Linked DNA regions of Homo sapiens. The protein of the gene in region 3 interacts with the protein of the main gene of each other region in a biochemical or structural test. Each region holds a gene or a part of one and is shown on either strand. Other genes may lie near its edges.

Region 1 (3,500 bases), about 14 Mb from region 3:
TGAGACTGATGGTCTGAAGGAGTACCTGGTCTAGCAGATGATGATGAGGTCTGGGGAGTTTCCTCACTAGCTTCTGGAACACGAAGTAATCTTAGTTGAACTTACGAAAGTTTTGGTTTGATGGAGGAAAAAAAAGGCAAAGGGCAAGAAGAGGCCTTACCAACTCCTACTCTATCTGTTTTCTCTCCTTCTTTCTTATTTGTCTTATCGGGTTCTTTGGCCTCTTCATTATGGCTACCCTCAGAGTCAGAGCACTCCTCCCCTTCGTCCACAGGCCGGAAGTCCATCTCCTGCTCTTCTGGAATAGGCTCTTTCTGTACTTTCTGTAGAAAGAGAATAAAACCAAAGATCAACAGCAGATTTGGCTTTGGTATAAGGTTAATGCTGGTCATGACATTTAAAACACGTTTCTTACTTTTAGAGAAAGGAATGCTCCAGATGAGTCAAATGTACCCATTTCTTCTTCAGCATCCTCTAAGCACCATTCGGGCAAGCTATCCCTGTCATCATCTATGCTCCCACTGCCAGAGCGAACCCTTCGGTAACCCCGTTCATCATCTCTATCTCGAAAATCAAACTCAAACCTCCGACGTCGTTCCATGTGTTCCCGCCAGCCTGCAGAACGAGGGCCATCTGAGATGAGAAGGAGGACACAAACCTTAGAAAAGTTTTATGACAGTATTTGAATAAGAAAATCAGGAATAGAAAATAAAGGAGAAAACTACAAGTGACCGCAAACTCAAATGGACTGACCTAGTAAAGAGAACATTAGGCAACTAAATGAAGTTCAGAGTTCAGAGTATATGTACCATTACGAGATGACAACAGTACTTAAGTACTGAGCCAGGCAACATACTCTAAAGCTTTAAAAGATAAATCTAAAATGCAGTACATTTAAAGGACACTGTATTCCAAGTACGCACTTTCAGTAAGTCCTAGGTACTTGATTAAAATACTGATTAGCCGCCAACTCCTCATCCAGACTTAATGCACTAGACATCCTTCCATACTGAAGTTTACACCTTCCTTTTGCCCAATCTTAAAGCATTTTCTTTCTTCCCATGAAAATATCATTGTTTGTGGATAAAATCAGCTCCCTGTGTTGACTTATATCAAACTCATCATGACTATTTATTAATGCCAGGTTCCCACTTGTAATTCTGATCCTCCCCCAAAAATTCACAAAATTACAGTGCTGAAAGTTGTCACAGAGATTTTATGAAGTTCACTATCCTAATTTTATAGTTTAAGAAGAAACTAAAACTTTGCCAGCAGAAGTAACTCGCACATGGCAAAGTAGAACTAAAATCCAATTCTGCACCCTCTGCTGCTTGTTCCACAATAACATACTTACTCCTCTCCCTTCTTTCTCATCTCTTAATTCTCCCTATCCATATAATACCCCTACGGACATTCCCAAATCTACATTTCCCAACAGAAGAAAAGATTGCCTAATAATAAGAGATCCTACTTAAGATATTTTTCTAAAAAAAAGAAAGGGAAACTCTTGCTAAAATCTGACAGACCTGAGTCTAAAAGAGTCTTAAAAAGAAAAGCAGGCTTTAACCTATTAGAATTTTCCATCCTTGACTGCTTTCTCTGTGGGGGATAAGAAAAAGAAATGTGGCCAGAGTTAAATGTTCTCACTATTGAGACAAACTTTGCAAAAACCAGCAATCTAAAAATCAAATTGGAAAACAAAGGGCAAAACGTTAAAATGCCAAATACAGGTAGCATCTGATAAGCCACTCACAAAAAAGAAATCTTAGTCCCACACTCCCATCCCTTCATATAAAAACAACAAAACACTATTTACTACTTCCTATGAGAACTAAGGAATTTTATACTCAGACTGCTTACGTGGAAACCTAGAGCCATTATGTGAAAAGAGTCTTCATGATCAAATGAATTCCAGAGCCCTCTGTACTGCTTTCATTTCTAACAGTCTAAATGTACATCATGACAGGAATCTATCCTTCTAGGTACCTGGCTCATGTTTCTCCTCTTACTGACTTTCCTAGGTTCAGCTCCCAGACTGGATGCCTCCCTGTCCTTAATGTTCCCACCCCCACGCACATCCAGCCGGAAGCCCTATTTTATATCCCATAATGTTATCTTATCAGTAGTTCATAAAATTTTACTCACGAAACTAAACATAGCAAGTAAGACATGCAAGGTACTTATTAAGGCTGACTGCTGATTTACAGACCCTACATCTAAACTAAAGTTGGATACTATTTTCATAAAATCAGTTAAAATAATTTAAAGTTTTACTCAAATCTTAATAAAAGATTAACCATAAACTAACAAACGTTAAGAGTTAACATATGAAAACTGCTATAATCAGGCTATACTTTGAATATACTGGGTTTAAAAAGTGAATCGTATTCTTTTTTAAAATGCATTTACACTGTTTTTTCAGACCCAAACTTTATATTTGGGGGATCTTTATATCCCCCAAACTGTCTTTTAAAAATATATGGATTTCAGCCACAGGTGTGACTGAAAAAATATATATGTATATGGATTAAAAGTTCTGGAAGATACACAAGTTGATGACAAAAATGATATGAAAGTCAAATATTAGGGGGAAAGAAAGATTCAGAAAAGATGAGAAGAAGATAATATATAACCAAATTCTAAGTTGTTGGGTGGGAGGTACTTTGTTAAACTCCCTTTAATAGAATCAACATCAGACATTTGGGCTCAAAAAACACAGTTCATCTTCCAAAACATTCACCTTGTTTGTTTTTGACCAGCTGGAATTTCTTTTCTCTCTCAGCCCAGATCCTATCCATTCTTCACTGAATGCTTGTTGGGAACATAGTCTACAAACCCTCTGCCTACGGACAAGCTCAGCATAAAATGCAGTGATGCCTTTTAGAGAACTATAACATCTGGCCCAGGTCACAGACTAATGAAAATTGTCTAGACCTTGTGATGTAAACAATGCCCACTAATGACAGAAAACCCACCCAAGAGGCAGCCATGAAGAGTTGGTATAAAACCATCCTAACTCTACCCAAACATTAACTTCAGTATGTTTCTATCTACCTACCACTTCCTTAAAATACTCTGAATGCCTGTTATAATGTCTACCCAGATCTAAGCTAGTGGTTTTGCTAATAACTTGATTTTTAAAAGTGAAAACAGTTTACTTATCATAATTTCCTGTATTAAAGGTAAGCCCCTCTGGCACATGGTTGATAAAATACTGTCATACACATGAAATTCATAGGGCATTCCACATATACTCTGTGTGCTTCAGTTTTGCATGACCCCACAATTGGAACTACAGTTGCATCTGATTATCATGAGGCATGGAATCAGCACTGTGGTACAGGATGAACTTTAACACAAAGCACTAGTGTCTTCAATTACTAGCATATCTAATGTCCAAGAAGAACAGTTTGAGCATTTTTAAGAGACAAACAGAAGAACTTTAAAAGCCACTAATCACTACTATTGTCTCTCCTTCTTCTAAAGTTAGAAGGACATAA
Region 2 (3,500 bases), on a different chromosome or scaffold from region 3:
TTCCAAATGACGACAGCAGATGGACCTACAGAGGCACGACGTGATCTAGCCAATGCCAACATGTCTAGCATTATCTAGTACCATCTCTTCCTTGGACTCTCTGGTTTCTAGTCACTGCTGAAATTCAGTCTTTAGTTCAATCTAAACTTTCACTTCAACAGAGAAACTTTTCCTAATCATCCTACTAACACTAGCACCCTGGACTTGGCTGAGGTTTCCTCTCACAGCATTCTGCACTTCTTCAAGACATTCTTCACAAATGTTCACGATCTGTCTCCCCCGATAGACTGTAAGCTCCATGAGGACTATGACTACGCCTGTTTTGTTTAGTGCACTATGTCCCGCACAGAGTCTAGTGTTTGGCATACAGTAGATGCTCCATAAATGTGTACTAAGAAAGACTATGACTCTGCTTACCTGTAACTGGGAGATCTGAGAAAGCTGGTTTAGCTGGGATAGCTGGTTCAGCATGGCTACCTGTTGAGGGCCAAAGAGTGGATTCAGGCCACCGTTGTTTGGTGCATACTTCAGCAATGAAACTGGAACCTTAGGATCACAATGGTAAGTTAATGATCTTGATAAAATAACTCACACTAACTACACGTACTGTGTGTTTTCAGTTGTCAATAGAGCAGTTAAATTTGTGGACTATTCATTGGGGGTTATAGTCTTTGTCTCTGTCTTACTAACTGACCACTCACTTACACTTTTTCGTGGGTTAAGTAAAAGATGACAGAGGTGCATCTTAAACTAGTCAATTTTACTTTGCTTTTGTCCTACTCTCAAGAATGTTTTAAAGAAGAAAATGGTAAATTTTGGATTTAAATTATCCTTGACTTTTCCTTACTACAACCTTTTTTAATAGTTAATTCAAAACTAGCTGAATCTCAAAGATGCCAATAAATATGATAATGCTTAGTTAGCCATTTTATTCAAATACAAAATCATGCAAGATCCTTTTTGCAGGTAAACAGGAGAATGTAAGGAAAGCTTATTTACCTGAGGGGAGAGTAATGGAGGAGGCACTTGAGCACGGAGATTAGGCTGAGATGAACTAAGAGGTTGTGCTGGAGGCTGCTGCATGCCCCGGGGTTGTGCTGCTGTGTTTCCAACACCAAACATACTGGGATTGCCATTCTATAAAAACAAACAGCAACAAGTAACAGTGGGATTCTTTAGGGACAAACATCTCATTACCACACTGTACTATGATTTAAACACAGTAACTACATGTAAGAGAGATCTTATTACTAATACAAATCATTCAACTGAGAGCCTAAAATACACATCTGGACTTACCTGTCTAACAGAATTCAAGTTTTGCATACCCAGCCCTGCTATGGAGCCAAGGGCCTGGTTAGGTAGTGCACTATTTGAAGGGGGAAGCTTCATGCTTTGACTGGACATAAACTGCATGTTTTGGGATTCATCTGCTACAATGCCATCCTGATTGGACAGACAGAAAGATGTGCAACACCAGCCAAGCAAACAAGTGGAAGGGAGAAATCATTGCAGGAACAGAAGAGAAGTCACATGACATTCCAGCATCAACAGGAAACAGGTAGAAAACAGAAGAGATCGGATTAGTGTTAATTCTAGAGCACACAAAAAGAGCCAAACATATTTCATGGGATTAAGAAGAAAAATATAAATGCAACCTCTATGATAAATTGAGACATAAAAAGACAGTGAACTTCAAAATCCAGTAATAAGATTTGGTAGTGGATTGTAACACTTTATATTATATAAAAGGTTTTAAAATATTAGTGTGAAAATTACGCTATGAAGTATACTGGTTTATCAAGTCAGAGGTAAAAGTAAAAAACCTTACCTTATCAAAATAAGGATTGCGCTCCATGGAAGACTCTTTGGAAATCTGAGGCCGAGAACCAGGGCCTTTCCCGACCGTTCGATTGTAATCACCAATATTTAGGCTATGTTTATCTATCTCCATTCGTTTGTCTTGTAACATTCCTAATAAAGGCAGGAGACTGTTATCAAACAGGAAGACAACCCAATTGGTTTCAGATAAATTTACAACAAAAGCAAAACACTCACTTTCCAAACTGAAATGACTTCAGCCAAGACAAGGGTATGTGAAAAATACACTTCCATTTCATAAATTTTGCATTCCTCACAAATGAAGTCGCAATTAGGAGATACTGTTATTTTACTGAAATAATTAACTTGAAATAGACTAGTAAACAGAAGGTGGCTGGCTGATAACCTCACTTTTTTTTTCTTTTTTATTTTAGACAGTCTCGCTTTGTGGCCCAGGCTGGAGTGCAGTGGTGGGATCTCGGCTCACTGCAACCTCCACCTCCTAGATTCAAGCAATTCTCATGCCTCAGCCTCTCGAGTAGCTGGGATTACAGGAGTGTACCACTACACCTGACTATTTTTTGTATTATTAGTAGAGATGTAGGTTTCTCCATGTTGGCCCGGCTGGTCTTGAACTCCTGACCTCAAGTGATCCGGCCGCTTCGGCCTCCCAATGTGCTAGGATTACAGGTATGAGCCACCAGGCCCGGCCTCGTTTTAAAAGGACTCTTAGGTTACATAACTTAAGGCACCTTTAGCCATCTCTAATCTGCTGAGTTTTATAATACAGGTAAGTTTCCATTAACAAGTAATAAAAACAATCAACACCCACTGTGATAAACCACCATTTAATAAATGCCTGGTTTATGTCAGTCGCCATTATAAGTGCTTTTTCTTTTCTTTTTTTTTTTGAGAAGGGGTCTCACTCTGTAGCCCAGGCTAGAGTGCAGTGGTGTGATCTTGGCTCACTGGAACCTCTGCCTCCCGGGTTCAAGCAATCCTCCTGCCTCAGCCTCCTGAGCAGCTGGGATTACAGGCACCCACCACCACACCCAGCTAATTTTTTTATTTTCAGTAGAGACAGGGTTTCCCCATGTTGGCCAGGCTGGTCTCAAACTCCTGACCTCAGGTGATCTGCCTGCCTTGGCCTCCCAAAGTGCTGGATTTACAGACGTGAGCCACCGCACCTGGCCTATGAATGCTTTATGTGTACTAATTTAATGTTTGTAACTCTACTGTTATCGCCCTTTTAGCAGATGAGGAAACTGGACACCAGACAGGGTAACATCTTCCCCTCTCTTAGGCTTTGCTCTGTCTGCTCCTCTCCTCATTCTGACTGCTCTGCAATAAAAAATGATCTTCTCTCCTGGAAACTTTTTTCCTGCAAAATCTTTGCTGGATATAGCCAGCTCCGGCCCAAAAGCTACTGCTCTATTTCAACAAATCTTTTAAAAGTGGACAATGCTCTCTACCACCCCTCCTCACCATCTGTCCATTCTGGTTTCTCTTCCTCTACCCATGCTGAGCTCACCTCGGGTGCTTCTTCAATGCTGGGATACTCTGCGGCTGACAAAGTAGACTCAGGGTCTCAGTCTTTTGACTCTCTCTGTAAACTTGCTTTCCTTAGACTTCATTCACTATCAGGGTATCAGCAGTCACTCCCATTCAAGTGATGCCCA
Region 3 (2,371 bases):
GAACTTAGATTCTTTTAAAAATCTGAAATGCTGAATTTTAGTAGCCATCAGTTTCATCTTCTCACTGTAACTCTCCATCCTACTGTGAAATTCCAGAGAGTCTAGGCGATTCCAAAGGAAACCTTATGATGCATTACTCCTGTTGTTTGAATTTTCTGTTGCTACTCTACGTGGTCAGAGAGAGAAGTATATTTTCAAAGATCTCTTAAAAAGGAACACAGCCCAGAGGGCTCTTGAATTCTATTTCCAATTCTGTCCTTGATTCCTATAAGTTTCTTGAGCTAATTATTTTATCTGCTTATGTTCATAATCTTTCTGCCAGAAATCATACACTGTAGATATAATGCATTTTAGAAATGTTTGACCTTTTGCTTTGTAAATCCATAATTCATGCTGAAAGCAACCTGCTCATATTCTGCTAAACCACGTAATGGAGCAATTTCTGTGTTCCTGGGAAGAGAGCTAGCTTGATTTGATTTAATGTGAACTCAGTCTCCTGCCACTGAGTTTATTCAAGCCCTACCTGTTTGTTGACCATTTTATCCTGTTCTTCAGTGGTTCTTGTTTCACTAAAGTTTAAAAATGTGTTTATTTAAAATTCTACTTGTACAAAGAAAACTAGTCTGAGTGCAAAAACTATAACTTTGTTTAAAATAGCTCTACACATAGTTAACATTTACCTTTTTTAGGTTTTCAGATTTGACTTTCTGCTGGTCATCTTTTCAAAGAAAATGAAACGTTTAAAAGTTCATCTGATAATACTGCTACCATAGTTTTGTTTTCACTGCTCATCTCTTATTAAGGTTTTTAACCATAAAACTGAAGCAATTTCTGTAAAGACACAAATTGATAACTTAGTATAGAATTAAAATTCATTAAGTTATCATAAGTTTGATGATATCCTTGTTAATGTACTGATTTTTGAATTATTTTATTTGCCATAATCCATATATTTCTAACATGAGTATTTTGACAGTATTTAATAAATCAGAAAGCTGTTTGAATGGAAGTAAACTATTGAACCTTTTAATTTTGCTTTTTCATGAAATTCTACATTGGGGCATCATTCAGAAAATATTTGTGGATACAGATTTTGGAGATCTCTAAGCCTATGCCTAATATAGCTTTAGAGAATTTTAATGGCTTCTTAAGGAGCCATAGATTCACAGTATTCTAAATATTTATGTCTAAGAAGGGGGCTCTTCCCTGTCCACAAAATGTGGGTTTATTTGTTGGTCTCCCTGGTTGGTTTGTTTGTTTCTGATGTAGGGCACGTGAAGCACTCAGACAGTGCCTCCCTGACCAGCTGAAAGACACAACCTTCGCCCAGGTGCTAAAAGATGACACCACCACGAAACGCTGGCTTGCACAACTGGTGAAGAACCTGCAAGAGGGCCAGGTCACCGATCCCCGGGGTATCCCCCTGCCCCCTCAGTGATCCTTCCCTGTTCCCTCCCACTACTCCCCCAAGTTGGGGAAAGGAGGGGGAACCTACGAGAAAAACAGCTCAGGTTTTATCACCGACTGGGAATAGACAACCTCAATGCTGAACCGCACTGGAGAAAAGGGGCAAGGTACCCCTGCTGAGGTGTATGGGCTGCCATCTCAGGCTGTCTTGAGGACCTGGGCTCCCTCTGCTACTCCCAGGAAATGGGCTCCTGACACAGCAGTCTGCCACCACAGCCCCAGGAGGGTGTCAACACCAGCAAATGCTGTATTTGCAGCATGTCCAAGATGACCCTTCTCCCCTACCTCTACCTAGCCACTGGCAGGGAGGGGAGACAGTGGTGATAGCAGCAGCACTCTAGGCATGGTGAACGCCTGGGACCAAGCCATGTGGCGTTTTTTATTTTGCCTTTCTGGAAGACTCAAGATATGTCTCTTCATTCTCTCTCAGTATTTGTTTACTTTGGTTTTTTTGTTTTTAATCTCAGAGAGAGGTGTGTTTAGTGGGCACAAGCTGTAATATTCAGCAAAACTTTGTCGACTGGCACTGTTTACAAGTCTGTTAGCTGCATAAGCTCAATAAAAAGTTGGTCTGGGCATTACATCCCCTCTGGCAGGCCAATAGCTGCATCAAGCTGTTGGGAGAAATGGGAGGGCAGGGGAAAGATGTAAAGCCAAAGTACAGCAGGAACCCACCACCTGTTTCCCTTCCTTCTCCCATTCTACTCCCAGTCCGGAATGCCACGAGGACCTTAACCTTGTTTCTGGCTTTAGCTGCTAGTTTTCCCAAATCTCAGTGCTTTCCCTTTTTGAACTTCCCTTCTATTAAACTTAAAACAGATGTCTTAATTAATCAGGCTGTCTTGGAAGGGTATTGTATTGGGAGACAAGGGGCGGTGGTGGACCTCACCTTCAATCCAAGTTT
Region 4 (2,904 bases), on a different chromosome or scaffold from region 3:
TAGCATCTAGTGGGTAGAGGCCGGCAATGCTGCTAAACCTCCCACAGTGCTTAGGACAGCACTCCACAACAGAGAATTATGTAGTTCAAACTGTCAGTGGTGATGAGGTTGATAAACCCTGCTGTATGTGTTTCAAAGAATGGAATTGCCAGAAGCCCTCGCAGCCAAGACAAATTTGGGTCATTGGGAGGGAATAGGGAATCAAGGAGGTGACTTCAGGTATGGCCGGACTGAGATGAGCTATTTTGATGGGATTAGGATTAAGCTGATTTCCTTTCTCTCACCTTTTCTTTGTGCCAGCACTTGGCATAGCAATAGTGGAAAAAACAGTGAAATAAACTTCTTTTCTTCTAAGCTAGATGGAATATGATCCTATTCCAAGAGCTAAAAGCATCATTCTACTTCCCTGTAACACTTGCAGCTTTACTGTAAGCCACATCCATGCTGTCAGGCTCCCAAAATGTCAAGGCACATGATTTTTTGGGGGGAGGAGGGGTGTCAAGATTGTTGCATTATAAACTAGCTAATTTATTTCCCAAGGTATCCTGTAATCATAGTGCACCTGGGAGGATCTAAATTTCTCACTGTTTCTGCATCATGCGCCATATGTGAATTTCTTTGGCTAACATACCCTTGCTTGATTTGATTAGTCTACAATTACAGGAACAAATGTCCCTTAAAACAAACTTTTTTTTAGAGTAGTTTTAGGTTCACAGCAAAACTGAGTGGGAAGTACGGAGAATTGTCATATAACCCCTCTGCCTTTATTGTCTTTTGACTTTATTACTAATTTTCAAATAAGATTTATGTAAATGCAAGTGTTATTCTGTTAATGCAAAATTAAATGTTCCTCAATTTCATTGCTCACTAAATGGTAAAGCAAAAGTTAGGAGCAGATTGTTCTGAGTTATGGGATATTCTCTCTCTCCCTATTCAGTAGAAGAGGGAGGATCATTTGCATGGACTTCTTAGGGACATTAGCCACTCGGTGTAAGATCATTTATCTTCCTGAAAATGTTCCCATGTAGTTATACATCATCTTTTTATTTCTGGGGGATTTTATTTTTCTTATAGGAAGTTTTCCCTGTTTGGCTTTTGCCTAATTGGAAGCTATTTTAAGTTATTCAGCATGACAGTTGGACTGCTTTAAAAGTTAGAGTGTACCATAGCCGTAAACCTTACTGTGATTGAGAGTGTTCTAGGACTTATATTTATGATCTTGTTTGTGTCTCATGTAGTTAGGGAGCCAGGGGGAAACTAGTGATTGTATTCTTGAGCAGAATTTTTTTCTCCTGGCCGCAAAGTCCAGTTTCTTCCTTTAGTCACAATATCTCTCTGCTAATCATGGCCAGTGGACACACTATAATGCTTCTCTGTTTCTCTTTTGCCTCCTTTCAATCATGGGTCTTCCCCTGGGCTTTCCCTTTAATATTTGACCCTTTAAAAAATTAATAGTCTGTACAGAGTAGATCGAGAGAGTAAGCTTGCTTGCTTTTTTTTGGACAGGGTTCAGGTTCAAGTTCTCAATAACAAGTTTTGTGAACTTGGGGAAATTATTCCTGAGTCTGTTTCTTTATCTAGTAAATGCAGATTATCCTTGTCTGCCTGCCTCTCAGGGCTGTTGTGAAGATCACATGAAATAATTGACTATGAGAGTGCCTTGTAAACCATACAACACATACAAATGTAAAATAATATGCAAATATAAGAAATGTGAGGTTTAGTAAATTACATCAATTATGAAATGAAAGTAGGGTTGGAGAATTTATTTTCCCTTCTGTTGTCTTGTTTTGTGTAGCCTAGAGTGCTTTTTCTTCATCTTAATAAGTTCAGAGATGACCTTCGTTCAGTTTAGTTGTAGTATTTTATCTTTTTATAAATAAGGTCAATGGAGTTAAATGCTTCACTTGTTGAAACATGATATAATTTGGCATTGATCAGTGGTTGGTGCAAAGCAAAATTTCAAAAAGAAAATTCTGATTTTGCTAAGCAGCATAGATCGTGCCTGTTAGAACATCCTCCTCCTCCTTCTCAGCGTTGATTGCCAATCAGTTCTGTAGAATCAGAAATATTTTTCTATGCTTTTTTCAAAAACTCCAGTTTGTAATTTGACTTACATTGCTATTTTCAAAAATAAAACAACTATCTAAGTATTTGTTAAACAATTAGGTAGTTGTTATACTTCACCCTTTTCCCCCTGACCAGTTAGTTATACTATGTGGATTCTGGATGGTAGTAGATCAAGTTAGTTTAGTCACAATTTATAAAAAGCCTTTTCTATGTTGCTAGTGTCTTCTCATGTTTGATACTATTCATAAATAGACCCAGAAAACTGTAGGACTCCGGGACTCAGGCTGTGAATGATTGGTAGAACTGTTGGAGTAGAGCAGGCAGACTGTGTTGGAAATTATTCCATCTAGAAGGTATCAGCTCCTGCCTCCTCGGCCTTAGTGACTAAATGGAAATACATTCTTTTCAAATTCAAAAGCCTGTTCATTACTGCTTTTCTCTTCTGAAGCACATTGCCAGTTTTATAATGAAGAAGGACTTAATTATTTTTCTTTTTCTATTGCTTATGTTTATTCTTCATAAAATGACTTTTCTTCCATTTGTGGGCTGAGAAATAAGCTCCTATATTGGACTTTGCAGACTTGGCTTTTTTATAGCGTAAATCAGCTCAGCTGGCTAAATGCCTCACTAAGTGAAACTTCATAATGTAGCTGGAACTAAATTGTGCTCTGGAGCATTGAGTCTTTAAACTGGATTATTGATTTACAAACCCATAATGGTGAAGAGGCTATAGAGAGACAAGAACCTCCCTCTCCTGATCCTTGAGCAAGTTTTTCCTCACTTCAGGGGCTCTGAGCTCACGAGCAAAATCCTAACCAAGTTTATCTTGCTAGG

What was found. The genes of interacting proteins can lie anywhere in the genome.
Region 1: the proteins of CNOT9 (region 3) and GIGYF2 form a complex in vitro, tested with the Homo sapiens proteins (one study listed by BioGRID).
Region 2: the proteins of CNOT9 (region 3) and TNRC6A form a complex in vitro, tested with the Homo sapiens proteins (one study listed by BioGRID).
Region 4: the proteins of CNOT9 (region 3) and CNOT4 form a complex in vitro, tested with the Homo sapiens proteins (one study listed by BioGRID).

What each region holds. Positions count from the first base shown.
Region 1 is NC_000002.12:232,787,831-232,791,330, reverse strand, and holds part of GIGYF2 (GRB10-interacting GYF protein 2), read right to left. Parts: intron 634-3,500; coding exon 416-633; intron 324-415; coding exon 161-323; intron 74-160; coding exon 1-73. UniProt on the Homo sapiens protein: Key component of the 4EHP-GYF2 complex, a multiprotein complex that acts as a repressor of translation initiation. In the 4EHP-GYF2 complex, acts as a factor that bridges EIF4E2 to ZFP36/TTP, linking translation repression with mRNA decay.
Region 2 is NC_000016.10:24,802,651-24,806,150, reverse strand, and holds part of TNRC6A (trinucleotide repeat-containing gene 6A protein), read right to left. Parts: intron 1,975-3,500; coding exon 1,832-1,974; intron 1,447-1,831; coding exon 1,300-1,446; intron 1,138-1,299; coding exon 1,000-1,137; intron 547-999; coding exon 418-546; intron 1-417.
Region 3 is NC_000002.12:218,592,839-218,595,209, forward strand, and holds part of CNOT9 (CCR4-NOT transcription complex subunit 9), read left to right. Parts: intron 1-689; coding exon of another isoform or gene 690-735; exon of another isoform or gene 736-1,009; intron 1,010-1,269; coding exon 1,270-1,438; 3' UTR 1,439-2,371. UniProt on the Homo sapiens protein: Component of the CCR4-NOT complex which is one of the major cellular mRNA deadenylases and is linked to various cellular processes including bulk mRNA degradation, miRNA-mediated repression, translational repression during translational initiation and general transcription regulation.
Region 4 is NC_000007.14:135,364,199-135,367,102, reverse strand, and holds part of CNOT4 (CCR4-NOT transcription complex subunit 4), read left to right. Parts: intron 1-2,904. UniProt on the Homo sapiens protein: Has E3 ubiquitin ligase activity, promoting ubiquitination and degradation of target proteins. Involved in activation of the JAK/STAT pathway. Catalyzes ubiquitination of methylated RBM15.